Linked DNA regions of Homo sapiens. The protein of the gene in region 1 purifies or fractionates together with the protein of each later gene. This does not show direct contact. Each region holds a gene or a part of one and is shown on either strand. Other genes may lie near its edges.

Region 1 (4,128 bases):
GCTGTTACCCTTGTACCTAAAGATGCCATCCTAATCCCCAGATCTCCACAACTATACCTACATAGTAGAAGGTTAAAATGTATCCCTCTTTTTCTGGTGCATCCAGCAAAAGTAATATCATGAATTATGAGCTCTCTGAGAGCAAGGATCATATCAGTCTTGTTTATTGTTGCAGTGAACAAGTACAGTTGCAGATATTCAGGAGTAATTATCTAAATGGCAGTAGGCTTATAAAACTGAATTTTCACCAGCCACACCCTCCCCCCAACTCCTTATCTGTAAAAAGCTTATTTGAGTGGTTACCTGTCTTCAGTAAAGATTGCGCTTGCATATTTGCTGTCATTGCATATTCTGCTTAATTAAGCTCTGTTGATATTGCAGTTTCTGTGCATACTTACATCTTAGATGCAATCTGAGGGCCTAGGAAGGCCTTTTAAAAATAAAACAATTCCGATTGCAGAGAAAGTGTAAGTCAAGGACAGTTAATTCAAGGGGAACATAGAAAGCTATTTAGATTTTAGTTGATGGTGCCAGTCTTCAGCGTAAAGTCAAAAGTGGAGGGAAGTTTAGTAAGGAAAAAATGTTGGGCTTGGAATACATTGTTTAGTCTTCAAAGCACTTTACTTTTTATGAAATATATTTTAGACATTCAGCAAATATTGAATACTTACTATATCAGGCAGTAAAGATATAAATTCATTCTTAAAATGTGCAACATGTTCAAACTGAAAAAAATACATTCTTAAACAGGAAACTTTTTCCTTCATACTTTTTAATTAACAAGACATATAAGAGTTGCATTAATGGGCGTGCTTATGATTGATCACCCAGCAGCATCATTAGAAATAATATATTTTATTCATGTGCAGAAATCTTTTGGTTGTCCTGGGGAACCTTGAACACAGAAAAGAGCTTTTATTGATAAGGTAATTGAACACACTTGACAATTAGCTTAATATGGTTTAATACCATTTGTGGGAGAAGATGAATCAGCCAGGCTCTTTACGTCAAGAATATGAAGTTTCTCTTGAGTCAACCAACTTAAGATGAGCTACGGAGACTGCAGTGAAAAGTTAAATATCCAAGTACACCAGCCAATTTCACACAGTGGAACCATGCTGTCCTCGGGCACCCTGCACCTCGCCCAACAGTCATCAACTAGATGGAGGCTCCTGGCTGCAAGGAGGATTTGATGGGAATGAGTAAATGTGTCAGCATAGTCCGTCCCTTCTAATGGAAAAGCAACCCAAAGAGCAAATCCTATTAATGGCTGGATCAGTATCATCTACTTGTCAAAAACATTCCATGAATTATGAGTCAAAATTTTATTTATGGTGGCATTACACACATTAAGAGATGAGGACTTCTGTTAGCATAATTTATTAGCTGGAAAAGTTGAGAAGGTTCTCTGGACTCATTTTTATAGGTGGAACCTAAGTGATCTGGATAATTGCCCACCAGCAAAATTGCTGGGCATGGTGGACAAAGAAAATGTTCCTTCTAATGATTTTTTATGAGCTGAGTAGCTATTGTTCCCAGCTGAGTGCTCTTTTCCTCTTTTTATTGTTGCTGAGCAAAAGAATTTATAAAAAGCTCTTTCTTTTGTATTAAAAACCCTGCTCAATTGAAATGCAAGTTCATTAAGTAATCTTCATTTCTCTTCCTGCCATAATAACCCTTTCCCTCTCTGTTCGATTCAACAGTATCTAGCAGCACTGCTCCAAATTTTAAGTCTGAACAGACTATATTACATAGATGTAGAGAAATACTCAATCTTCAGCATTAAGAGGGAGCTTAATTTCACACGGGTGGAATATGATCACTCAGGCTAGATGTTGGCCATAAATTTCAAATTAGTATCTCAACTTAGCAGGGGGGATCAACAGTGGCAAACTTCAATTATGACAGGATAAAAATCACATAGAGATATTGGTTCAATATGGACATCTAAACTATAATGCTAAAAGCCAATAATTAGAATAAGTTCATTTTAAGAAAAGCATTAATAATATTAGCTAACGTTTAGTACCTGTGCCAAACATTCTACCTATGTTACCTTGATTTTCATAGCCAGCCTAAGAGGTACTATTATGTATCCCCATTTTACAGGTTAAGAAACAGGCTCAGAGGAGTTTAGGATCTTTTCCAAGATTACATAGCCAGTAAGTGGTGGCACTAGGAACCAAATTCAGACTCTGAATCGCATGCTGTTTATATTATATTGCACTCATTCTAAATATGTGGGAATCAGAATGAAGGGGCTTGTATGACTTTTGGCTCATTTTTTGATGCATGTGACCTGGGATTATAAATGTGAAATTAGGTTTACGAAAGGATCCAGTGTCATTGTGCATCATGGGCAAGGAGTACCTAATCTCTTTAATTCTTCCCTGGAAGCTTACGATGTCCATCCAAGTGCACATAGCAAAAGTTCTGTTGTAAAGTTTAGCAGAGTGACTTTCTTTGACTCAGAGTGATGACGGAGGAAGCTTTGATAAGATTTTATCTGAAATGTTCATGGACAAGAGCTTTCAAGGAGAACATCCAGAGCAAGGTTCTGAAGACAGCTCATGAAGGTGAAGCAGCAGACCTGGCACAAGAAATGAAGAGAGAGCTCAGTGTATTAAAGATGAAAACAAGAAAACCGAATATATTGAAAGGAGCAGAGAGGCAATGAAAACAAGACAACTGAAATGAGGTAACTTGCAGCAATTGAAAGGGAATTTCAGTACTTTTATAGAATTCTTAAAAATTGTTTCCTGCTGTTTATTTTCAATTTTGAACAGGGTTATTTGTCCATGCCATACTTTTTTTGCCAAATTCCAAAATTGTGTATAGTTCTATAGTTGTCTGGTGGAGTCAATGGAACTTTAGTTACCAGTCTAAGAATGTGTCTTTGAGATTGTCCAGTTAATTCTCTATTTCCAGTAGCTGTAATAAATGGTGAAAAGGTTTCTGACTCCTGGAGAAAGTTTCTAACTCCTTATGACTAATATTCATAACAGACTTGTGAGTTCCTTGAACATGGATACACCTATATGCAAGAGTGTATTCCAAAGCTAACTCAGTGATCTTTCCATTTATCTATTCTTGGATTAGTGGTGCCTTTGCTCTTTCCTTCTGTAAATGTGAATAGTTAAGAGTTGACTGCAGAAGTGTTTACACTTTGGCTTCCATGCCTCTGGAATGTTTGTGCTTTGGTGGTGAGATGTGAGACTATATTTGTATAGTCTGCATCTCTCAGGCTGCCCCAGAATGTTGTACAGTGCAGTGCTGAAGAAAGCAGCAGGTACACACAGAAATGCAGCCTTTCCTGGTTAACCCTGCTTGGATCTGAGTTACACTTTGTTTCCTGACTTCTTGGGACTTAGGTAATCAGTTTGCCTTCTACTCTATCTCATTTTGTACTCGCTTACATACTACATTCTTGTTTGGGCTTTCGTTTCTTCTTGTAAGCAGAGATTTTTTAAAATCCAATATGTGAAAATACGGATGCACTACAATTAAATAAATAAAATGCTGTTGTGTTTGTTTTGCTTTAAAATTGTAAAGGATAAACAATAAGATAGTTTTATCTATGTGGTTTTCCCGATGCAGTTAAAATAAAACCTAATCTGCTAAAATTGAATTTACACTCAATTTTTCTGTTGTATAATTCTTGAAGAACACCTCATGTGTTGTACAACTTCATCTACATTGTGAACTCTTTTATTTATTGAAAGTCTATCTTAGTCTTTCACTTTTTCTACACTTCCCTTTACTTCCTCATGAGATGCTCAGCCCAGTTGTCCCTCAGGACACAGTATCGATTGGTTCACTTTTAAAAGCAACTGTTAGAAACCCAAATCATAGACATGTGAATTTTCTCAGAAGCCATTATTGAAACTTGGATTTTTACCTCTCATACCAAAATAAAGAAGGGAAAAAATAGAAATCAGCCCAACAATACTTTTAAATTGATTTTTATATTTATGTTGTAATGCAAATACCAAAGAAAAGTGCCTAGTTCCTTGGTTTATTTACTTATATCTTGCCTCTGTTATCTTCATATCAATTTTTGGCCTTAGCACTTTTGACTGCATAAAGAACTCTAAACATAGGCAATGGTAATAGAAATGCTGACACATC
Region 2 (4,256 bases), on another chromosome or scaffold:
GAAGAGGGACCTCGGCGATCCAAACTTGCTGATTCAGGTTTTACTATGATTCTGGGGTTATAGAAAACTGCTCTCTAAACTTGGCGCATCTTCTGGAAGATGTTGGAGGTGAGGTGGTTTAGTGGATAGTTAATAGGCTTAACCATCTGTTGATGTGAAATTGAGATATATTACTGAGTGCAATGCAAAATTTTATACACATTTAGCTTGCTTTGAAGAAAGACATTATTGGTAATGTTAACAGCAAAAAACAGCTGAGATTGAAAATTAGCGTGGGCTAGGTAACATGTTAAAGTCTTTATGTGTACAGTAGCCTCCCTTATCCGCAGGGAATACCTTCCAAGACTCCCCGGTAGATGCCTGAATCCTGGAATAATGGCGAACCCCACATATAGTTTTTCAATCTGATAACCAAGATGGCTACTAAGTGACTAAGAACCTGGTAGCCTAACAGCATGCATGGACAAAGCGATGATTCACACTGCAGATTTCATCAGGATATCCAGAATGGGCTTGCAATGAAACATTTGAATTGCTTATTTCTGGAATTTTTTACTTAATGTGTTTGGACCTTGGTTGACCCCAGGTAACTGAAATCAGGCTAAGAGAAGCCACAGATGAGGGAAGCCTACTGTATTTTCTTTTCTTTTCTTTTTTTGAAATAGGGTCTGGTTCTGTTGCCCAGGCTTTTCTTATATAATCATCACAAAATTAGCAAATAGGTACACTTAATGTTATTCTTATTATAAAACAGTATTTCGGAAAATGCAAATATTTCTAAAATAGCCCTATTCCCATCCCTATCCATAGGGTATTTTATCCTCTTCGCAGTGCTTTTCTCTCTCTTTTTTTTCCCCTTATTTTCTATGTTCCCCAAGCACCCCCTTCTGGGCATAACACAGTGCCTGCCACAAATAAGAAAAAAAGAAGTTCGGTAAACTTTTGGTCCAGTCAGTGAAGCACCTTGGACCCCATCACCAGACGGTAGGCGCCAAGAGAGCAAGAGTCAGCATGTTTTCTGCTAACCAGAGATTAGCACGATGCCTGGTACAAAGTAGGCGCCCAATAAATAGGTGAAGAAAGAAAAAAAATTAAAAAAAAGGAAGAGAGTGAGGGGAAAGGATGAATGAATGAAGACGTTTGCAGAGGGGCCTAGAAAGAAAGCACTCTGCAAGATTCTCCCTCCTGGTGGCATCAACTCTCAGTTCAAGGTCTATGTCAGCCCTTTCCTTGCCCAGACGCATTGGCCTACAGCAGGGAATGAAGAAAGAACAAAGTCTTTAAAAATGTTCAGAAGAAAGAGAAAACGGCAAGATAAAAGAGAGAAAAAAAAGAAAGAAAGGAACCACCTCCTTCGGGCGGACTAAAAAGGGAAGCCCCAGGAGGCCGGTTGCTAAGGCGACCCTAGGGCCAGAACGGCCCCAGCCCATTGGTTGAGACGCAGGAGCCAATGAGAAGGCGCGATGTTGACGGGGTCCTAAGATGGCTGCTGGGCGACCACTTCCTGACAGGTGAGTACGGCTTATGGAGGGTTGGTTACCCGCCGGTTCGGGCTCCGGCATGATGAGTCTGGGAGGGCCTCTTGTGGGCAGCCGAGGGAGGCGGCATGGGCGGCCTCATAGCTCCTCGGCCGAGCCTCCCGGAGCAGGCTAGAAAAGCCCCCGGCCCGGGGCCGCGGAAGCGACGGCGGGGCCGCCCTCAGCCTTCCTCGAAAGGGGCGTCGCAGCGGCCTCCCCAGCCTGTTATGTGGAGGGGGTTCTCCGTCCCACCCAGGTCAAAGTGAGAGGGGATTGAGGAGGCTGTCGATAGGGAAAACAGGCTCACGTTTACAGTTGCTGTATTCCGGAAAACAGCTCCAGTTAATGGGACTGCCAGCAGGCTAGACATCCTTCGCCGGAATGTGCAGCGCTTAGTTCTGTGCCCGGGAGGGGCTTCTCTCTCTTTTGGGATTGGAGTGTGGCATTGCCGCCAGAAAGCCTGCAGAATTCCGGGTTGTGCAGCCAAGCAGGAACGGTGTACCTTTCTAGACCCATCCTCTTGCAATCTTGGACCCTGTAAGTATTCTCACAGCGGAATCGACTTAAAATGAGCCTTGAACTGTTAACTTGGTTTATTGTCTTTCCATGCAGGATCTTGGGTCTGGGAAAATGTTTTCCAGGCCTCAAGTAAACGAACACTCTCTTTAATTAAAACAGTTGAATACATGCAAAATCTTGCTAAATAAGTAGTTTTTCTGGATTCGCTCTCAGGCCTGTAATTCAGTTGTCCTTTCTGTACCTTTTTTGAGAAAAGGAACACATTCATTTCATAAAAGTAAATAGGATATTTACGTTAATGTTGATGTTAACATGCTTGAAAATAGTAACTATTTTTAAGTCACAGACTCTGATTATGATGTAAATTACAATCTTCAGATTGTTAAATAATTGTGGCTTATAATTAGTATACAAGTGAAATTAATTTTAGATCAGACGAAGTTCAGGCTTCTGGAATTATTTCTAATCAAATACAAAATATAGGAAATAAGACAGCCTTATACGATGAAAATGGAATTTAAATTCTGGAATAGAGATGGAAAACATTTACCCATCGAGCTGCTCAAATATATCTTTTGGGTTTTGATTATAAGCAGCTGTCTGGTTGTCCAGAAAATATGACATTATTACTCAAACCTCTGACTGTGACTTTGACTTTGATGTATGCAACTTAGTATAGCATCTTGCATAGCTTTCTGTACTCAAAAAGTACAGAAAAAAATTCTTAACCAAATTTAACAAGTCTGTAATTATAGGCTAAGATCATTCTCAGCCCCAGTCGCAAATCCTTGTCCCCGCTTACAACTCTGCTCTGTAAAATTCATAATCTAAAGCCATGGGGCTATTTTTGTAAAACAAATGGATCAGAATGCATTAGGCAAGTCAGTTATCCCATCTGTAAATTGGGGGCGGGGCGGGTAGGGGAGGGGCTGATATAGATAGTAATTCCTAGTGGAAGGGTTGTTGTGAAGATTAGTGGAAAACCAAGGCCTGCCACACTGTTTGTATGCCATGTGCAGCAGTGACTTGCTTTGTTTCCCCTTTCTGGTTCTAGTGTTTCCTGTTGTAACTAGGGTTCCTTCCCCTTCTCAGTGTCCTGAAGTGTACAGAGTTTCTCTGAAAACATCCTCTTGGCTGAGTTGCTAGGTAGAGGAGAGAAACCTTATCTACTGGATACTGGGCTCTAATCAGGATTGCAGTGCTAGAGAGAATGGAGTGATACATCCAGGAGTGAGGTGACTCTGGGCATTTAGGGCACTTATAATATCAAAATCATAAAGAGGCATTTTAGAGCTGTAAGACATCTCAGAGATCATTTGATCAAACCTTTATTTTATAGCTTAAGAATGGAGGCCCAGACAAATGCAGTGGCTTTCTCCTAATTATGTTGCTCAGGACTAGAAACCATTTTCCAACTTTGAAGACTTTTTCCCCCTGTAACCAGTGCACAATCTAGAACGGTTTTTATTATAATTTGATTTCTCCCTGGCTGCTTTATTTTGAAAGATTGTGTCTACTCAACCTTATTTATGAATGTTTTTTTCTGATAAAAATCAGACCTATAACTACCAGTGAACCTCTGATTAACATGTGAAAAATAGTGCTTCACTAAATTGGTCTTTTCCTGTAATGATGAATGGTACAGTCTTACTGAGGGGAAAAATAAAATAGTTTGGGCTTTTTGAAATTAGCTTAGAGACTCCTGTTACTATATTCATACTTAGATTAGGAACCACTGAACTGTACCCTGTTTTTGATTCATTGTTATCTGACCAAGTATGCTAAATAATAACGATGGGTGGTTTTCAAGGGCAAACAAACAAACAAACAAGAAACCCTAGTTATTCAGACTAGGACAGTATATAAATATTTTCAGTTCATGGCAAATTGTGTTAGCCCAGGACTAAAGATGTGTTCTGCATAGTACACACAGAATGTCTTGAGGATAATTGTGGGATGGAATAAATCTTAACTCTAGAGGTGGAGGGTGTGTAAAATGAAGAAAGTGATATTCAAAACCATAGAGAGAAAAAGGATTCTGAGTCATTTACATTTTCCTTGGGGCTAAAATGATTAAATTGAAAATTATTTGGGTTGCAGGGTAAAAAAAATGAAAGCTTATGAATTAATACATTGGCTGTTATATGGACTTGGCTATAATCTATGCTAAACAAATTTAAGTTTCTGTTTCTCTGATATTCCACGTTTCTGGAGACAGGC
Region 3 (3,500 bases), on another chromosome or scaffold:
GACCAGCCTGGGCAGCATGGCTGCCCATTTCCCCAGAAAAATGGAAAAATTAGCCAGGTGTTGGGGCATGTGCCTGTGGTCCCAGCTACTAGGGAGGCTGACATGGACGGATCACTTGAACCCATGAGGTTGAGGCTGCAGTGAGATTGCACCACTGCACTCCAGCCTGGGTGACAGAGACCCTGTCTCAAACAGCAACAAAAACAAACAACACAAGGGTATAGTTAGATTGGAGAGACCGTATATAAGACATGAAAAAATCTTAATACTTCAGTCGTTCCTTAGATGTTTTGGGTATCAAAATAATCTTCTCTTTGCTTTTCTTAACTCTCACAGTAATGAAGAAGTTAGTACTATTATTATCTCCCATTTTCCAGATGAGGAAATTTAGTTCCTGAGGGTTGAGGTAATGTTGTATCTTTTTCCTTTGTTCCCTGTGTAAGAATTATCTACCCTGGAAAGTAATTAGTAACTAATTTCTCTTTGTTTTTGTGTTGGTGGTTATTGTGTTATTCAAGAATGATGAGTGGTATTAAAAAGTTCACACCAAACCCAGAACCTCTAGTATATGCAGAAGCCATATAGGTTTTTGCTTGTTTTTTGAGAGGCTGCTTCTATCACCTTACGCATTTTCAGTGAGTTAAAATACCATCAGATAACTGTCACTGCCAAAAGAAGCCTGTGAAGACATAGCAACTAAATTATTAGCTGGGCCCGGTGGTGCATGCCTGTAGTCCCAGCTACTCAGGAGGCTGACGCAGGAGAATCGCTTGAACCCAGGAGGTGGAGTTTGCAGTGAGCCGAGATTGCACCACTGTACTCCAGGCGGGGTGACAGAGCAAGACTCTGTCTCTAAAAAATAAAATAAAAGGGCTGGGCACAGTGGCTCACGCCTGTAATCCCAACACTTTGGGAGGCTAAGGCGGGTGGATCACGAGGTCAGGAGTTTGAGACCAGCCTGGCCAACGTGGTGAAACCCCATGTCTACTAAAAATACAAAAATTAGCTGGGCATGGTGGCACGTGCCTGTAATCCCAGCTACTCAGGAGGCTGAGGCAGGAGAATCGCTTGAACCCAGGAGGTGGAGGTTGCAGTGAGCCAAGATTGTGCCATTGGACTCCAGCTTGGGTGATAGAGTGAGACGCTGTCTCAAAAAATAAATAAATAAATAAAATTAAAAACTAAATGTAGGCCGGGCGCGGTGGCTCACGACTGTAATCCCAGCACTTTCGGAGGCCGAGGCAGGTGGATCACAAGGTGAGGAGAGCGAGACTACCCTGGCTAACACGGTGAAACCCCATCTCTACTAAAAATACTAAAAATACAAAAAAAAACAACAACAAAAAAAATTAGCCGGGCATGGTGACGGGCGCCTGTAGTCCCGGCTCCTTGGGAGGCTGAGGCACAAGAATGGCTGAACCCGGGAGGCGGAACTTGGCAGTGAGCCCAGATCACACCACTGTACTCCAGCCAGGGTGACAGCGAGACTCTGTCTCAAAATAAATAAATAAATAAATAAAAATAAATGTAATGTGGTACTGTGGAACAGAAAAAGGACATTAGCAAACTAAGGAAATCTGAATTAAGTATGGACTTCAGTTAATAGTAATGTGTCGGCCGGGCACAGTGGCTCACACCTGTAATCCCAGCACTTCGGGAGGCTGAGGCAGTAGATTACCTAAGGTCGAGAGTTCGAAACCATCCTGGCCAACATGGTGAAACCCCCGTCTCTACTAAAAATACACCAATTAGCCGGGTGTGGTGGCAGGCACCTGTAATCCTAGCTACTCGGGAGACTGAGGGAGAAGAATCGCTTGAGCCCGGGAGGCAGAGTTTGTAGTGAGCCGAGATTGTGCCATTGCACTCTAGCCTGGGCAACAGAGCAAGACTCTGTCTCAAAAAAAAAAAATAGTAATGTGTCAATATTGGGTCATTAGTTGTGACAGATGCTCCATGCTAATGTAGATGTTGGTAATAGGGAAAAACTGGAAGAGTTTATTTTTTCTTACAAAGCACGGTGAAATAGAGGAAGAGTGAGTGGTGATATGAGTGAATTGGAATTATCCATTTCAAATCCTAGAGGTTAGCCTTTTTTAGGAAGCTATTGAGAAGTTTTTATGGTATTTTAAATTCTAAAAATACTAGGATGATGATTTTATTAATTTGGTGAGCATTTGCTAAGGTATTCAGATCAAGGTGCAGGGAGGGACAGGCAGTATGGGAAAATCATAGTTGTGTTCTGAAAGGTGTTATATTTTCTTTCTTTTTTTTTTTGAGATAGGGTCACCCAGGCTGGAGTGTGGTGGCACAGTCTTGGCTCACTGCAACCTCCGCCTCCCAGGTTCAAGTGATGCTCCCACCTCAGCCTCCTGAGTAGCTGGGATTATAGGCATGCGCCACCACAGCCGGGATAATTTTTGTATTTTTAGTAAAGACGAGGTTTCACCATATTGGTCAGGCAGGTCTTGAACTCCCTACCTCAGGTGATCCGCCTACCTCAGCCTCCCAAAGTGCTGAGATTACAGGCATGAGCCACCACGCCCGGACTTAGGTCTTATATTTTCTTTTTTTTTTTTTTTTGAAACGGAATTTCGCTCTTGTTGCCCAGGCTAGAGTGCAATGGCGCGGTCTCGGCTCACGTCAACTTCCATCTGTCCGGTTCAAGCGATTGTCCATCCTCAGCCTCCCAAGTAGCTGGGATTACAGGCGCATGCCGCCACTTCTGGCTAAGTTTTTTGTATTTTAGTGGAGATGGGGTTTCACCATGTTGCCCAGGCTGGTCTCGAACTCTTGAGCTCAGGCAGTCCACCCGTCTTGGCCTCCCAAAGTGCTAGGATCACAGGCGTGAGCCATCCGGCCCAGCCCAGGTCTTATATTTTCATAGAGAAAATAAGATAGGATTTTGACATGTCCCTGTTACTCTTTGACCACTTTCTTGCATTTTGGAAGAAGACGTTTCAGGCTCATCTTGTACTTTTCATGCCCTAGCTGTGGGCAGGGCAGCTTTTCCTGTTGTAGCCATTTCTCCAAAGAGCCCCAGTTCCTTTTAGTTGAGAATGGTATTTAGGGCCAGAAGTGGTAGCTCACACCTGTAATCCCAGCACTTTGGGAGGCCAAGGCAGGAGAATGGCTTGAGCCCAGGAGTTCAACACCCTTGACAACTTAGAGAGAATGCCTCTCTACAAAAAAATTTTTTAAAAGAAAAATCAAGAATGGTATACAATCTATATTTCTGTATATCTATACATACTGAAAATCACAAGTTTATATTGATATCTCGTATTTCCAGTTCATCCCACAGGATTCATTATTTTCTTCCTTTTCATATGTATACCTGCCTTCTTAACCTGCTTGGGCTATGGTACCCCACAACAGGCTGCCCTTTGTCAGAGTATACTCTGACACTCCATGCCAGGCTGCCTTCCTTGAGAATCTCTCTCTTGCTTAGGCTCTAAAACCTTGTTCTCGGGTGTCCAGGTGTATAGACGTTCGCCTCATCT
Region 4 (3,500 bases), on another chromosome or scaffold:
TAAAACATTTTCACAATGCCTGATAAATAATGAGCCATCAATAACTGTTAGCGAGTCTTTTTTTAACATTTTTTTAAACTCAAATACATTTAGTTAGGATAAGCAATAGCCATTAAGTCCTGAATTTGATGTGCTACCTATATTTTCTTAATTTCCATTAACATAAATACATAATGATTAAATTAAAAACATTGTGTACCACTTAATATATTTTACCCACTTTGGAAATAGTGACCTATAGAATAAAAAGTTAAATGTCTTTGAATAACACTTATAATTTACTGCTATCTGATCCCAGTACTTTCTTGCATCCAACTCAAGAATGCTCTATTTCAAACAGTGTCCTCAAAGTGGGCATTCTTGCCATCAGGAATATCTTTATAATCACTTCACCTTTTCCCCACTTCCAAACACAGATCAGACTCTATTTCTTTCAAGACCTTCCTGTATAAAATCGCTTCTTTTGTTTTTCAATTATTTCATGAACTAGACTTCTTGTTTACTCAGTGCAGCTCACTACAACACAGCTGCTTCTTTAACATTGCAATTATTTTTCATAATAGTGCAGAGAAATCAAAGAAAATGGGTACTGAGAAAAGACAAATGGATGTGGAAATCAGGAGGTCACCACTGACATTAAAGAATATAGGGCCGGGTGCAGTGGCTCATGCCTGTAATCCCAGCACTTTGGGAGGTTGAGGCAGGTGAATCACCTGAGGTCGGGAGCTCGAGACCAGCCTAAGCAACATGGAGAAAACTGGTCTCTACTAAAAATACAAAATTAGCTGGGTGTGGTGGCGCATGCCTGTAATCCCAGCTACTCAGGAGGCTGAGGCAGGAGAATCGCTTGAACCTGGGAGGTGGAGGTTGTGGTGAGCCAAGATGGTACCATTGCACTCCAGCCTTGGCAACTAGAGCAACACTCCGTCTCAAAAAAAAAAAAAAAAAAAAAGAAAGAAAGAAAAAAAAATTAGCCAGGCATGGTGGTGCACACCTGTAGTCCCAGCTACTCAGGAGGCTGAGGCAGGAGAATTGCTTGAACCCAGGAGGTGGAGGTTGCAGTGAGCTGAGATTGCACCGCTGCACTCCAGCCTAGGTGACAAAGCGAGACTGTCTCAATAAAAAAGAATACAGAAATAATATTAGGAATTAGATTTCAAGGCAGTAAGAAGAGTGGATAGTGACAGAATAGAGACAGTGGGTATGGAAAACTTTTTCTTAAAATTCAGCAGTAGAAAAGAAAACACAAACAGGCAAATAACAGAGCAAGAAAAAGTAAAGGTTTTCTTCAAGATTGAGAAAAACTCAAGGTTGAGAGACAGAGGGAAGCAACCTGTGAGTAAGGACAATTAGATGAAGTGTCAGAAATAACTAGAGGCACAGAATGAGAGGGGCTACCTCTCTTCATTGAAGAGGAAATTAAAAATACAAATAAATACTACTATCCCCTAATATGGAGAAGAGGAAAATAAGAAAATTCACATTTACATATTTTTAACTTCTACAGGAAAATAAGAAACGAAGCTAACCATTAGGAGTGACAGGAGTACATGGAAGGAAAAAAGGGAAAAGATTTAAAAATCACTTTTTAAGGAGTAAGCAACAGAACAAATAGGACACAAAAATGATCATGGAACAGTGAAGATCCATTTGTTCTAGATTTTAAAAGCGGGTGAATGACACATTTAAAAGTTCTCAAAGTAAAAACTAAATTAAGTACTACTTTGATCTTCATATGATCCTTCACTGGTACTGATCCCTTTTAGCACCTAAGAGTTGTATTTAAAAAGCAGACAACTATAATTTACTCAAATGTTACACTCTACACATTCAATTGTGAACTAAAAAAACTTGATATACAGAATGAAATTATAGACAAAATTTATGTACAAATCCTAGGCAGAAATAAGCTATGGAAACATAAAACCAACCAAAAGTAATCTCTCATTCCATAATTCCCCAAGGTACTTGTTACTTTGTTCTTCCTGGCATTTATCACAGCCACAAGAAACTCAACTACAGGAGCCTAGGAAAAAGTGAAATTTTAAATATTTTGTTATCTGACATAATCTAAACATTCTGGAACTTTTTACCACTATTAACACTGAACTGTAATGTAATACAGTGATATGAATGGATTATGTCCAAATATATAAGTCTGCTTAATTTCATTAAGATGGCTATGATTTTTGCATTGTGCCTGCTTTTTGTCACTTTCTGGTCTTTTTCCTTAGTATCAGGTTATTGTAATCCCATGAACTCCCTAGCATATCTGCAGAACAAACACATTTATACCTAATGTGCTCCTTCCAAACTTCTATGAACTTGAAAACAAGATAAAAAGGTTTGCTAAAATGTCAGCACATATGCTTTAAGATCTGTGCCTTGGCTGCATATAGATGTTTTATTTGTTGGGGGTAGTACCAAGTTCTCAGACAAACTCTTTCTTTGTGGCTCTCAGGTAACCTACACGGAACAGGAAAGGCGCTTAATTCAGCCTCACAATAATAAATACGTATATTTTGTCTTCTTCATAAAGCTAGTGAACCTTGTGGGAACAGGGACCATTATGATTTGTATTAACAGGGCACCTGGAACAAAGTCTGGCACTTAAGATTTCAACAAATCCTTTAATATATCATATTGAAGTCAACTAAATGGCTAACAATCATTTTATTTCCCAACATCATCAACAAAGTAAGTTGTCCCAACATTTTACCTTAAGTAAGGTTTTTAAATTTTAAGCAAAGTTAAGTCCTAAGGCCACAAAAATTCTGCAAGAAACCTCAAATGCTATAAGTAAGGAACAGACAGTAGATGGCATGCCTCTCTTCAGAGCAGTTAGGCCCAAGGTTAAGATATGCTAGTATTGCTGAAAGGTTTTTTTTAAACTCAAGATCTTGTCCTCAAACAGTTACTAAACTTCTCAGGGTATATTTCAAAAGAGCAGGGTATTAACCTTAGCTCTTTGGTCTAATTCTAAGTCTGGTAATTATATGCTGCCTATTAAAATTCCCCTTGGAATCCTAATTTAATAAGGTGGTGCTCAGTACCTGTCAAACAGCTCAGAGCAATGCTACTGGCTGCAATGTTTATCCCACAGAGTGTAACATTTCAGATGTGATTAAATGATCATTTAGAATTTTTCAGGGAAGAAGGCAATCATGAATTCATTAAAATACTTTTCTACTTAAAAAGAATATATAATTCATATTTTTAAAAAGTAGCCAAAATTCCTATATCTAAAAATGCTGGCCGGGTGCAGTGGCTCACGCCTGTAATCTTGACACTCTGGGAGGCTGAGGCGGGTGGATCACTTGAGGTCACAGGTTCAAGACCAGCATGACCAACATGGTGAAACCCCATCTCTACTAAAAATACAAAAATTAGCTGGGCATGATGGCATGCCTGTGGTCCCAGTTATTCAGAAGGCTGAGGCAGAAGAATCACTTGAACCTAGGAGGCAGAGGTTGCAGCGAGCCGAGATCACGCCACTGCAC
Region 5 (3,500 bases), on another chromosome or scaffold:
GATTTTGTATGAGAGGATGAGGACACTGTTAATAGCTCCTCTTCTCTTTTCAGACTGTCAGCATCTCCCTACTGTATACATGCTTGATTAATGCTATTAAATATGGTAGGTTCACTAAAAGAATGCCTTTGTTGGTGCAGTTAAAATGGTAATTTGCATCACTGTGAGTAGATCAAAGTGAGCTAAAAAGTTGCAAGTTTCAGGATGATCATAGAGCAAGAATGGCAATATGGATTATTGTGGTGGATCTGCATGTAGACTATTAAATAATCAATATTCAAAAGTTCAAATCATCAGATGTGATACTGTTTTTGAGATGGAGTCTCACTCTGTTGCCCAGGCTGGAGTGCAATGGCGAAATCTCGGCTAACTGCCACCTCCACCTCCCAGGTTCAAGCGACTCTCCAGCCTTAGCCTCCCAAGTAGCTGGGATTACAGGCACTCGCCATCTTGCCTGGCTAATTTTTGTATTTTTGTAGAGGGGGTTTCACCTTGTTGGCCAGACTGGTCTTGAACCCCAGACCTCAGGTGATCTGCCCACTTCAGCCTCCCAAAGTGCTGGGATTACAGGCGTCAGCCACTGCGCCCGGCCAGATGTGATACTCTTGGATGGACTTAAATTCTGAAAAAGAGACTGTGTAGCCTGAAAATGCAATTTAATTTATTATGTAGCAGTTCTCTGCTAGAAACATCTTTCTCAAGTGCAATCCAGATTGATCTTTGTTTTGAATTAAGGACTCTTGCATCCTGATTTTTTTTCCCAGTGTCAAGATAATCTTGGCAAAGATTACTAAAACCAGAGTTGGAAAGTGCGTTGGTGCAGAAACCTCTAGCCAGAATCTCTTAGTGGTCTTGATAGGAAACATAAAGCTTTCCTCTTTTCCAGGGGTCATCTTCTGGGCCTTAAGGTAGACCCAGCCTAAAGAGTGTCTTCATTCTGCATTTGCATTTAGATAAAAGCTGCCCTTTGGGGAACAGGCTGGAGAAAAGAAATAAGGGGAATACGCTTACTTCACTTATATCTTAAAAAGTATAGTTTCTGTTTCTGGAAAAACAAAGAGCGTAAGTGTTTATACCCATGGAATAATATTCCATCTTTGAACCTGTCAGTATATTGTTACTGAAGGCTTAATCAGTTTTTATCTTTTTATAACTATGATCTAGGTCTAAGTAAGAGGCTGCCTGTATATATGGGTGTTTTTGCAGGATATTTATGGTAGAAGTTTCTGCATTGTTGTTTGTTTTCAATGTGTTTTTGAGAGCTTATCCTTTTTTCTTTGTCATCCACAGGTTCGAGAACTTGTCTTGGACAATTGCAAATCAAATGATGGAAAAATTGAGGGCTTAACAGCTGAATTTGTGAACTTAGAGTTCCTCAGTTTAATAAATGTAGGCTTGATCTCAGTTTCAAATCTCCCCAAGCTGCCTAAATTGAAAAAGGTAAGTGCTTTTTCTTTAACAGTAAAAGAGAACGATCCTGGGAAGGGAAAATGTATGATTTTACCTGTAAGGAAGCACTTAGTGTAGCAGAAAGCACATGGCCTTTGGAACTGGGCAGATATGGGATTGAATTCTAGCCCTAGCATTTCCTTGATGGGCAAACTTCTGCAGGTTACTTAATCTCTCTAAGGCCCAATTTCCTCACCTGTAAACTGGTGGTATTACTTGACCTTGCAGAATTGCTGTGAAGTTTGGAAATAATGCATGTTGGGTGCTCAATAAGTAGTAGTTAGGAAGAATAATTACTGTGTTGAGTAATTTATTTGTTAATTGTTATAAAAACAATTCTCTATCCTTTCGGAAAAAGGGACCAAATGCAACATAAAAATGTTTTCTCTTGTCACTGCACATTTAACTGTCACAGAGTCCCAGAATGTCAGAACTGGAAGAAACTTTGCTCCTCTAACCCAACCCCTTATTTTATAGGCACAGCAATAGTCCCAGGAAAGTGTAGTAATTTGCCTAAAGCCACCCACAGAAGTGGTTAGTACTAGAGCCAAAACTAGAACCCGTATCTCCTAACCCCATACCCTTCCCATTATATAGGAAAAGATATGTGGTTATATAAGTCTTGCAGAATTCTCTGCCATTTCAATATTCGCTTTACTAGGAAAGTTAAGTTGTACCTTTATTTAAACTAAGGCACACGTAGAAGGAAACTAATCAAACTTGGGCAAAGGTAGGTTGTGCCTAGAGCTTGCTTGAGTTCTGAGTGGGACAGTTAGTTTTTTGGTATTGGGGTTTGTTTGTTTGTTTGTGGTTTTACAGCAGGTGGAGTGGGTTAAGTATAATACATGAGGCCAGTCATGGTGGCTCACGTCTGTAATCCCAACACTTTGGGAGGCCAAGGTGGGAGGATCACGTGAGGTCAGGAGTTCGAGACCAGCCTGGCCAACATGGCAAAACCCCATCTCTACTAAAAATACAAAAAAATCAGCTGGGCACGGTGGCACGCACCTGTAGTCCCAGCTAGTCCGGAGGCTGAGGCACAAGAATTGCTTGAACCCAGGCGGTGGCTGAGGTTGTAGTGAGCCAAAATCACACCGCTGCATTCCAGCCTGGGCGACAGAGCAAGACTCTGTCTCGATTTAAAAAAAAAAAAAAAAAAAAAGTATAATACATGAATTAAAAACTGGAAGTATTTTTTGTTTTGCTTTCTTTATTTGCCTTGTTTAGGTAATATTAAATGCTCAAGCAGTCTTCGTGAGTTTCAGGTGACCGTTTCTGATGAGAAAGAAATTTCCCCTTCTAAGTATACTAGAGGTTCAAGTATAATTCTTTTATATTTGCATGGGTTATCAGTGACATTGGAAGCTCTGATTAGCCCAGTTAAACATAGTATAGCTTTTTAGCATCTATTTACATAAACTTGATGCTAGCAGATCCTTAGTGTGTGTTTTGTGTTGTTTTCCTAGCATTCTGATTTATTTTCCCAAATTACTGTTGGTCTCTGTACTCTCAGACTTATTCAGAAATTCAGCCTATCAGTGACCGTTTTTATAGGGACTTTAATAAACCTTTCAGAATTCTGAATAGAGCTTGTTTGAGTTCTGAGAAGGACAGGGTTTTTGTTTTTGTTGGTTTTGGGTGGGAGGGCACGTTAAGTACACAAATTAAAAACTTTTAACATTTAAAACATTAATCACTTCCCTTATAGGGCTAATGAGAGGGAATCATACTTAAAGGCAGGTTGAGTGTACTCATGATTGATAAGAACTTTATTTTCTTCCTATTCCAGAACACAAATTGGTTTTGTTTTGTTTTGTTTTTGAGATGGAGTTTAACTCTTGTTGCCCAGGTTGGAGTGCAGTGGTGCCATCTCGGCTCACTGCAACCTCCGCCTCCCAGGTTCAAGCGATTCTCCTGCCACAGCCTCCTGAGTAGCTGGGATTACAGACATGCACCACCACGCCTGGCTACTTTTTGTATTTTTTTTTTTGTAGAGATGGGGGTTTCACCATATTGGTCAGGCTGGTTTCGAACTCCTGACCTCAGGTGAT
Region 6 (3,500 bases), on another chromosome or scaffold:
CTAGTGCCGCTGTTTTTACACTTTCCTGTGCATTGGAATCACCTGGGGACCTTGTGGCGCTACAGATCCTGGCTCAGTAGATCTAGGGTAGGGTAAGGCCTGAGATTCCACATCCTGAACAAGCTCCCGAGTGGCATTGCCAATGCTAACTCACCACCAAACTTTGAGAAGCAAGCCTCTAAGGCAGAGGTTCTCCAAGTGTGCTCCCTGGACCACCTACAGTATCAGCCTCAACTGGGAGCTTGCTAGAAATGCACACTATCAGGCCACACCTAGATATAGCCCTCCTGACTCTGAAACTCTGGAGGTGGGGCCCAGCCATCTGTTTAAACAAGCCCGCCAGGGGATTCAGATGCACCCTCAAGTTTGAGAACCCTTGTTCTGGAGCACTATTTGGCCATTTCCTGAGACGTAAAACACAAGAAGAAATGTAGGTTTGGGAGGTCCCAGGAACGATGTTGGCATAGCCAGAGAGTATCTCTTTCTGGCCAAACAGGGGCTCCCCTGATGATCTGAGGCCTTTTCCTCAGCACGTGTGGCCGCAGGAGCATGAGGGGACATAAAGGGGCAGCCTGACTCAGGCTGAACCTTGTGCCCTTGGATTCACCTTCCCACTCCCTGCTCAGCCTGGGTCCTCTGGTGGTCAAAGTGAAGGAGTACCAGGTGGAGACCATTGTGGACACCCTGTGCACCAACATGCGGTCAGACAAGGAGCAGCTGCGAGACATTGCCGGCATTGGCCTCAAGACCGTCCTCTCGGAGCTCCCTCCTGCAGCCACAGGTACCCAGGTCCCCAGGACTAGGTACTGTTAGTATTTGTCCTAGTTTATGGTAAAAAAACAAACGAAAAAACAAAAAAAAAACACTGAGGCTCAGAGAGTTGAAGAGACATACCTGAGGTCACTCAGCTAGTAAGCAGGGCAGAGAATTCAGGCCCAGCTCAGTTTAAGTTCATGGTTCTGTGTCAGGAATGCTTTTAGCTCAAGTGATGAAATCTAACTAACGGCAGTTTAAAGAAATCAGGGGTGGTTTTTCCTCACATGGCAATCCTGGAGGAATCAGCCACTCCATTTTTGTAGCAGTTCATTTAGTGGCTCAATGTTGACAGGGTTCCAGTCTTGCCCCATGTCCCCTCCCTTTATAGGGAAAGCACACGTTTTCCCAGAAACCCCCAGAGGACTTCCACTTATATCTCACTGGCAAGAGCTGGATCACCCAGCCACTCCCAGCAGCAAGGGAGGCAGGAAAGGAAGTGTTTAACTTTCCCTGCCTCCCTAGTGGAATGGGGAAAGGAAGAAGGGCTTGGGTGTGTGTAAGTCACCCAGAAGCTCGGCCATCAGCTCTGCAGCTCCCCTAGCTGTCTCCTTGACTTTGGCCAGACTCTGGGTCAAACCTGGGACCTCTGGAGCCCTGGTAAGATTCCCGGGGATGTGGGCTCAGGAACACAGCCAGAGCAGAGGCAGACTAGTGGTGGAGGCTGCCTTTCCCCCAGGCCAGGGCCTCACTGTGCCCACCTTGTGCCCTGTGCAGGCTCCGGGCTGGCCACCAACGTGTGCCGGAAGATCACAGGCCAGCTCACCAGTGCCATTGCCCAGCAGGAGGATGTGGCTGTGCAGCTGGAAGCCCTGGACATCCTCTCTGACATGCTGAGCAGGTGTGGGAGGCCATCCTGGGTATTGAGGAAGAGTGGGTAAAAGGGGACAGGGAGGGACTCAAATCACAGAGCTAGCACCTACTGCACACCAGGCCCTGTGCTTGGGGCTCCTTAATCATCCCAGCAGCCTCGTAAAGGAGAACTCAATTGTCACAATTTTACAGGCTCTGAGAGATGATGCGGTCAGTAAAACCTCCCATGACTTGAACACCTGCTCTGGCCAGAAAAATGTCAGGTGCTGGCCTAGTGTTGGGAACATGGGGTTAGATCAGTCTTGGTTGTTCTAGGGAGGAGTTCACAGACATGTATAAAACTGTGAATGGAGTAAGCACAACAGTAAGGATAAGAGCAGGGCTGATAGGAGCTCAGAGGAGCCCCCAGTCCAGCTGGGAGTGAGGAGCCTTCTAAAAGAGAGTGCTGCTAGAGCTGAGCCTTCGAGGAGGGGCAGGACTTAGCTGAGTTTGGGCAGGTATAAAGAGGATGCTGGAGGGGAGACTGTCCCCAGTCCAGAAGGCAGAGACAGGGGAAGACTTGGGGTCCCAGAGTCTGCCAGGGGTCGTGGGGCAGGCTGTAATGTGGAGAGGTGGGTATGCAGAGCTGAGGTGCAGGGCTGGCCAGGAGCCATGGGGCAGGGGTGAGTATTTGTGTGTTCTACCCTGATCTTTCTCTCTGCAGTGGAGAGTAGGTGGGAGGGGATTGAACAGGCAGGGGACTGGTTAAGAGGCTGCTATAGGGAAAGCAATTCGGGTTGTATTCAGGAGGGGGACTCCACAGGACTTGGAGTGGGCAGGGGAGGCAGGGACTGGAGGCTGACCCCTAGGGTTCTGCCTTTAGTAACTGGCGGGGGCAGACAGAGGTGCTGTGATGGGGTGCACTCCGGGAGCCAGCAGCAGGTGTGTGGGGAGGAAGGTGATGGATTCAAGCTGGGGCATGTTGAACTTGAGGCTCCTGGGAGGCACTCACTCAACCACACACTCCATGAGGGCAGCTCCCAGGATCAGTCTGTCTTGTTCACCCTGGCTTCCAGCACAGTCCCTGTCACTTAGCAGGTGAACAGGCAAACAAATGAAACCTAGGAGAGGGGGTTGGGTAGGACATAGAAATAAGGGAGGGTAAGGTCAGCGTGTTTCTGTAAAGTGAGAAAGAAAAGGTCTCAAGATGTTTACAGGACAGAAAATGCACGGGCCTCGTTTGAAGGTGTGGATAGAAGCTGCTGAGGCAGGCAGGAGCTGTGCTGTGTGCGCAGAAACCATTGTCTGGTGTTGCCTCTTGTCTTGAGCCCAGAGCTCAGCATCTCCAAAGGCACTAGGGAGCCATGGAAGGAGTTAAGCAGAGGAGTGACCAGGTGAGAAGTAGACTTTATACTGCTCTGGTCTCAGCGAGGAGGATGGACAGAAGGGGATGGTATTGAGGCAAGGCCTAGACTTCCAAGAAATAGGGACAGCCTTACTAGATCCTCTATGCTTTCCCCTATCAGGTCTTTCTCCCTAGGCTGGGAGCCAGGCTTTGCACTGCTGAGAAGTCCCTTTCTCTCTCCGCTTTCTCTCATGTAACAAAAGTAATTAAAATAATTCCTCCTCACAGTTGCAGGGCACCTCTTTTGCAAGGGCCATTGAGTTGCCATAATCCTGGGAAGGAGGCCGGGAGAGAATGGGGAGAGGGGCGGAGCCTGGCCCAGGTTGCCCGCGGAGTGCGATCGGCCTGATGCCCCCTCGTGCTCCCCAGGCTGGGTGTCCCGCTGGGCGCCTTCCACGCCAGCCTCCTGCACTGTCTGCTGCCACAGCTGAGCAGCCCGCGCCTGGCGGTGCGCAAGCGGGCGGTCGGAGCGCTTGGCCACCTGGCGGCC
Region 7 (4,145 bases), on another chromosome or scaffold:
GAATTTGGGGGCTGGGTGCGGTGGCTTGTGCCTGTGAGCCCAGCACTTTGGGGGGCTGAGGCGAGCAGATCACCTGAGGTCAGGTGTTCGAGACCAGCCTGGCCAACATGGCGAAAACCGGTTAATATAAAAATTATATTAACACGGTTAATATAAAAATTAACCGGCCACGGTGGCATGCACCTGTAGTTCCAGCGGGAGGCTGAGGCAGGAGAATTGCTTGAACCCAGGAGGCGGAGGTTGCAGTGAACCAAGATAGCATCACTGCACTCCAGCCTGGGTGACAGAGCGAGACTCCGTCTCAAGAAAAAAAAAAGAATTTTGGTTTTGGTTTACACCACTCAAAAGTGCAGGAATTCCAAAACAAGCCGGTCGGGGCACAGTAGAGCACAGACTCTGGCTCCTCCATCCGCCCGCACCCCACCCTGTGAAAGGAAAATAAATCTCAAAACCCCACAATCACTAAGTCAAAGGAAAAAGTCAAGCTGGGAACTGCTTCGGGCAAATCGGCCTCCCGTCTTATTCCTAAATAAGATAGTTACAAATACATATTTTTAAAGCTACACACCTCCCTCACAATTTGCCCACAAAGAAATTCTCTGTGGGCCTCAAGATCTTTACCCTAAAACAGTTCTGTTGAATTTCACCCTGGCAATGCAAATTGATAGCTTCCCTTCACAGGTGCGAGACAAAGGACTGAACTCAAAGCCATCCCTCTGCTCACCTAGACAAATGCATATCTGATCGCTTCCTTTGCTCTACTGTTTACGTAGAAATGAAGATTCAGTAAGCCAGACTAAAGCATAAGCGACTATTCCTCTACCCGCGTCTCACATGCATAATAAATTGTGCAGTCAGCGAAAGGCTGAACAAAGACTCAAAAGAATGCACCCTCCGGTCTCTTCTCTACCTGTGACCTGAAAGCCCTCTCCTGGAATTGTCCAGCCTTTCTGGGCTGAACCAAGGTACACTCGCACGTGTTGATTGATGTCTCACGTCTCCCCAAAATGTACAAAACCAAGCTGCATCCCAACTTCCCTGGGCACCATCGTCACGATCTCCTAGGGTTGTGACACTGGCGTGTCCTTAACCTTGGCAAAATAAACTTTTTACATTTCATTGAGTCCTGTCTCAGATATTTTTGGGTTCATAACCCCCACCCTCACCCCTACCCGCGGAGAGAGCGAGCCGCTCTCCAGCCCCTCCCCGGCTCTACGCAGGAGAGGCCACTCTCCTCTATGGCACGCGCGGCGGCACTCTAGCAGCCAGGTGGCTTCTCTATGGGCTTTTCCGGCACAGGTCGGAAGTGGCGCGCGCTGCCCCGGAAGCACCCTGGTGGGTGGGTGCCTGCCAGCAGCTGAGGCGCCATGGCGGCGGCAGCGGTGTCAGAGTCTTGGCCGGAGCTGGAGCTGGCTGAGCGCGAGCGGCGGCGGGAGCTGCTGCTGACGGGGCCCGGGCTGGAGGAGCGAGTGCGGGCGGCGGGTGGGCAGCTGCCGCCGCGGCTTTTCACCCTGCCGCTGCTGCACTACTTGGAAGTGAGCGGCTGCGGGAGCTTGCGCGCGCCGGGGCCTGGCCTGGCGCAGGGCCTGCCGCAGCTGCACAGCCTCGTGCTGCGGCGCAACGCGCTGGGGCCCGGCCTGAGCCCCGAGCTCGGGCCGCTGCCTGCCCTTCGGGTGCTCGACCTGTCGGGCAACGCGCTGGAGGCGCTGCCGCCGGGCCAAGGCCTGGGCCCCGCCGAGCCGCCGGGCCTTCCGCAGCTGCAGAGCCTCAACCTCAGCGGCAACCGGCTGCGCGAGCTGCCAGCCGACCTGGCGCGCTGCGCCCCGCGCCTGCAGAGCCTCAACCTCACCGGCAATTGCCTAGACTCCTTTCCCGCCGAGCTCTTTCGCCCCGGCGCGCTGCCCCTGCTCAGTGAACTGGCGGCTGCTGACAACTGCCTCCGAGAACTCAGCCCCGACATCGCCCACCTGGCCTCGCTCAAGGTCAGCGGGGGCTGCCCGGGCGGGGCGGGATGGGGCCTTGGAGTAGCCCTGGAGAAGGAACCCCTCTCGGGGCCGAGCAGTTCCTAGTGACGCCCCCTGGGGCACTGGGCCCAGGGAATTCCTACAAGGCTGAAAGGAGCCAGCTGCGGGGGGCATCACCCCTGGGAAGCAGATGCCGCCTTCCAACTCCCCCTTCTCCTGGCCACACCAACATACTAGGTGGCCTCTGAACTCCCCCGCATTCTGTTAACTGGACTTTTACACGTGGTACGCTATTTTGTAATTGTTAGCAAACCTGGCTTCTCCTGTAGATCGAGCGTAGAGACCTGTCTTTTTTGTATCTAGTACTTGTGAAGTGACTTGAGAGTGAGTCTGGTGGTGAAGGGGGCACCCTGGATTTTGCATAATGCCACATGCTGTGATCTTGAAGATTATATTTCACTTCATCCTAATAGCAGCTTTCCAAGGTAGGGGTGGTTATTCCTGTTTTACAGAAAGCCAAAGGGCCTGCCCAAAGTAAGCAGCAGGTAACTTGGGTTTTTCTCCAGACTATATTGTCCAGCGTCTGTTTACTAATTAATCTTGGATCCCCAGGCCCCGCGATAATGCTTGGCCTATAACAGGTGCCCATTGAATCTGTTGCCTAAAAGAAAGTAGGGAAGCCACATGGCAGAACCACGACCTAAACCCAGCCAGATGTTCTCTCCATCTTCTCTTTTGGTTTCATCCTTAAGGCAGTCCTGCATTTCTTCCCCCATTTTTCGTCTTTGAATTTATGCAGACATTTCTTTTTTTTTTTTTTTTTTTTGAGATGTAGTCTGGTCCTGTCACCCAGGCTGGAGTGCAGTGGCGCGATCTCGGCTCACTTCAACCTCCGCCTCCCGGGTTCAAGCGGTTCTTCTGCCTCAGCCTCCTGAGTAGCTGGGCTTACAGGCGCACACCACCACGCCCGGCTAACTTTTGTGTTTTTAGTAGAGACGGGTTTCACTGTGTTGGTCAGGCTGGTCTCGAACTCCTGACCTCATGTGATCCGCCTGTCTCGGCCTTCCAAAGTGCTAGGATTACAGGTGTGAGCCACCGCGCCTGGCCTATGTGGACATTTCTTAATAAAATACGTATACACTTTAGCAGCTTATCTATTTATTTGCTGTAGCAATTCCTCAAGACATTGCAACTCATTTTACAAGTAACATATCTATATAAGGATATATAGACAAACCCTGGCCGGGCGCGGTGGCTCACACCTGTAATCCCAGCACTTTGGGAAGCTGAGGCGGGCAGATCGCTTGAGGTCACACCACCAGCCTGGCCAACATGGTGAAACCCCATCTCTACAAAAATACAAAAATTAGCTGGGCCTGGTGGCGCGTGCCTGTAGTCCCAGCTACTCGGGAGGCTGAGGTGGGAGGATCACTTGAGCCCAGGAAGTGGAGGTTGCAGTGAGCTGTGATACCAGCCTGAACAGAGCGAGACCCTGTGGCAAAAAAAACAAACCCACTGTAGAGTGACACATGGTTACTGATGTAACTGCCCAATGGGTTCATTTTATCCACTACCCGGATAGAGCTGATTTATCAGGGCAGGAGGGTTGCAATAGAGAAAGTTTTACACATGTAGAGCCAGCTAAAGTGGAGACTGGAGTTTTACTGTTATTATTATTGTTGTTTGAGATGGAGTCTCGCTCTGTCTCCCAGGCTGGTGTGCAGTGGTGCAACCTTGGCTCACTGCAAGCTCCGCCTCCCGGGTTCACGCCATTCTCCTGCCTCAGCCTCCCGAGTAGCTGGGACTACAAGCGCCCGCCACAACACCCAGCTAATTTTTCGTATTTTTAGTAGAGATGGAGTTTCACTGTGTTAGCCAGGATGGTCTCGATCTCCTGACCTCATGATCTGCCTGTCTTGGCCTCCAAGGTGCTGAGATTACAGGCATGAGCCACCGCGCCCGGCCGAGTTTTATTACTAAATCAGCTTCCCCAAAAATTTGGAGGCGGGGTTTTTCAAGGATAGTTTGGGGAAAGGGGAGGGTGGCTAGGCAACGGGTGCTTGCTGCTGATTGGTTGAGGTGCAATCATAGGGGTGTGGGAAACGGTCCTGCTTACTGAGTCACTTCTGGCTGGGGCTGCGGGGAGCTCTTTTTGGTTTCAGGTAGAGCCATTGATCAGAC

The links.
Region 2: the proteins of DNAJC15 (region 1) and FAM204A purify together in Homo sapiens (affinity purification with mass spectrometry, with the first as the bait; one large-scale study listed by BioGRID). This does not show direct contact.
Region 3: the proteins of DNAJC15 (region 1) and TIMM17A purify together in Homo sapiens (affinity purification with western blotting; one study listed by BioGRID and IntAct). This does not show direct contact.
Region 4: the proteins of DNAJC15 (region 1) and PJA2 purify together in Homo sapiens (affinity purification with mass spectrometry, with the first as the bait; one large-scale study listed by BioGRID). This does not show direct contact.
Region 5: the proteins of DNAJC15 (region 1) and ANP32B purify together in Homo sapiens (affinity purification with mass spectrometry, with the first as the bait; one large-scale study listed by BioGRID). This does not show direct contact.
Region 6: the proteins of DNAJC15 (region 1) and CAND2 purify together in Homo sapiens (affinity purification with mass spectrometry, with the first as the bait; one large-scale study listed by BioGRID). This does not show direct contact.
Region 7: the proteins of DNAJC15 (region 1) and LRRC47 purify together in Homo sapiens (affinity purification with mass spectrometry, with the first as the bait; one large-scale study listed by BioGRID). This does not show direct contact.

The regions. Positions count from the first base shown.
Region 1 is NC_000013.11:43,110,586-43,114,713, forward strand, and holds the end of DNAJC15 (dnaJ homolog subfamily C member 15), read left to right. Parts: 3' UTR 1-3,628; downstream 3,629-4,128. UniProt on the Homo sapiens protein: Negative regulator of the mitochondrial respiratory chain. Prevents mitochondrial hyperpolarization state and restricts mitochondrial generation of ATP. Acts as an import component of the TIM23 translocase complex. Stimulates the ATPase activity of HSPA9.
Region 2 is NC_000010.11:118,339,525-118,343,780, reverse strand, and holds the start of FAM204A (protein FAM204A), read left to right. Parts: upstream 1-1,456; 5' UTR 1,457-1,511; intron 1,512-1,853; 5' UTR 1,854-2,054; intron 2,055-4,256.
Region 3 is NC_000001.11:201,958,503-201,962,002, forward strand, and holds part of TIMM17A (mitochondrial import inner membrane translocase subunit Tim17-A), read left to right. Parts: intron 1-3,500. UniProt on the Homo sapiens protein: Essential component of the TIM23 complex, a complex that mediates the translocation of transit peptide-containing proteins across the mitochondrial inner membrane.
Region 4 is NC_000005.10:109,371,975-109,375,474, forward strand, and holds part of PJA2 (E3 ubiquitin-protein ligase Praja-2), read right to left. Parts: intron 1-3,500.
Region 5 is NC_000009.12:97,993,341-97,996,840, forward strand, and holds part of ANP32B (acidic leucine-rich nuclear phosphoprotein 32 family member B), read left to right. Parts: intron 1-1,290; coding exon 1,291-1,440; intron 1,441-3,500. UniProt on the Homo sapiens protein: Multifunctional protein that is involved in the regulation of many processes including cell proliferation, apoptosis, cell cycle progression or transcription.
Region 6 is NC_000003.12:12,806,680-12,810,179, forward strand, and holds part of CAND2 (cullin-associated NEDD8-dissociated protein 2), read left to right. Parts: intron 1-626; coding exon 627-781; intron 782-1,530; coding exon 1,531-1,654; intron 1,655-3,379; coding exon 3,380-3,500.
Region 7 is NC_000001.11:3,793,699-3,797,843, reverse strand, and holds the start of LRRC47 (leucine-rich repeat-containing protein 47), read left to right. Parts: upstream 1-1,345; 5' UTR 1,346-1,367; coding exon 1,368-1,982; intron 1,983-4,145.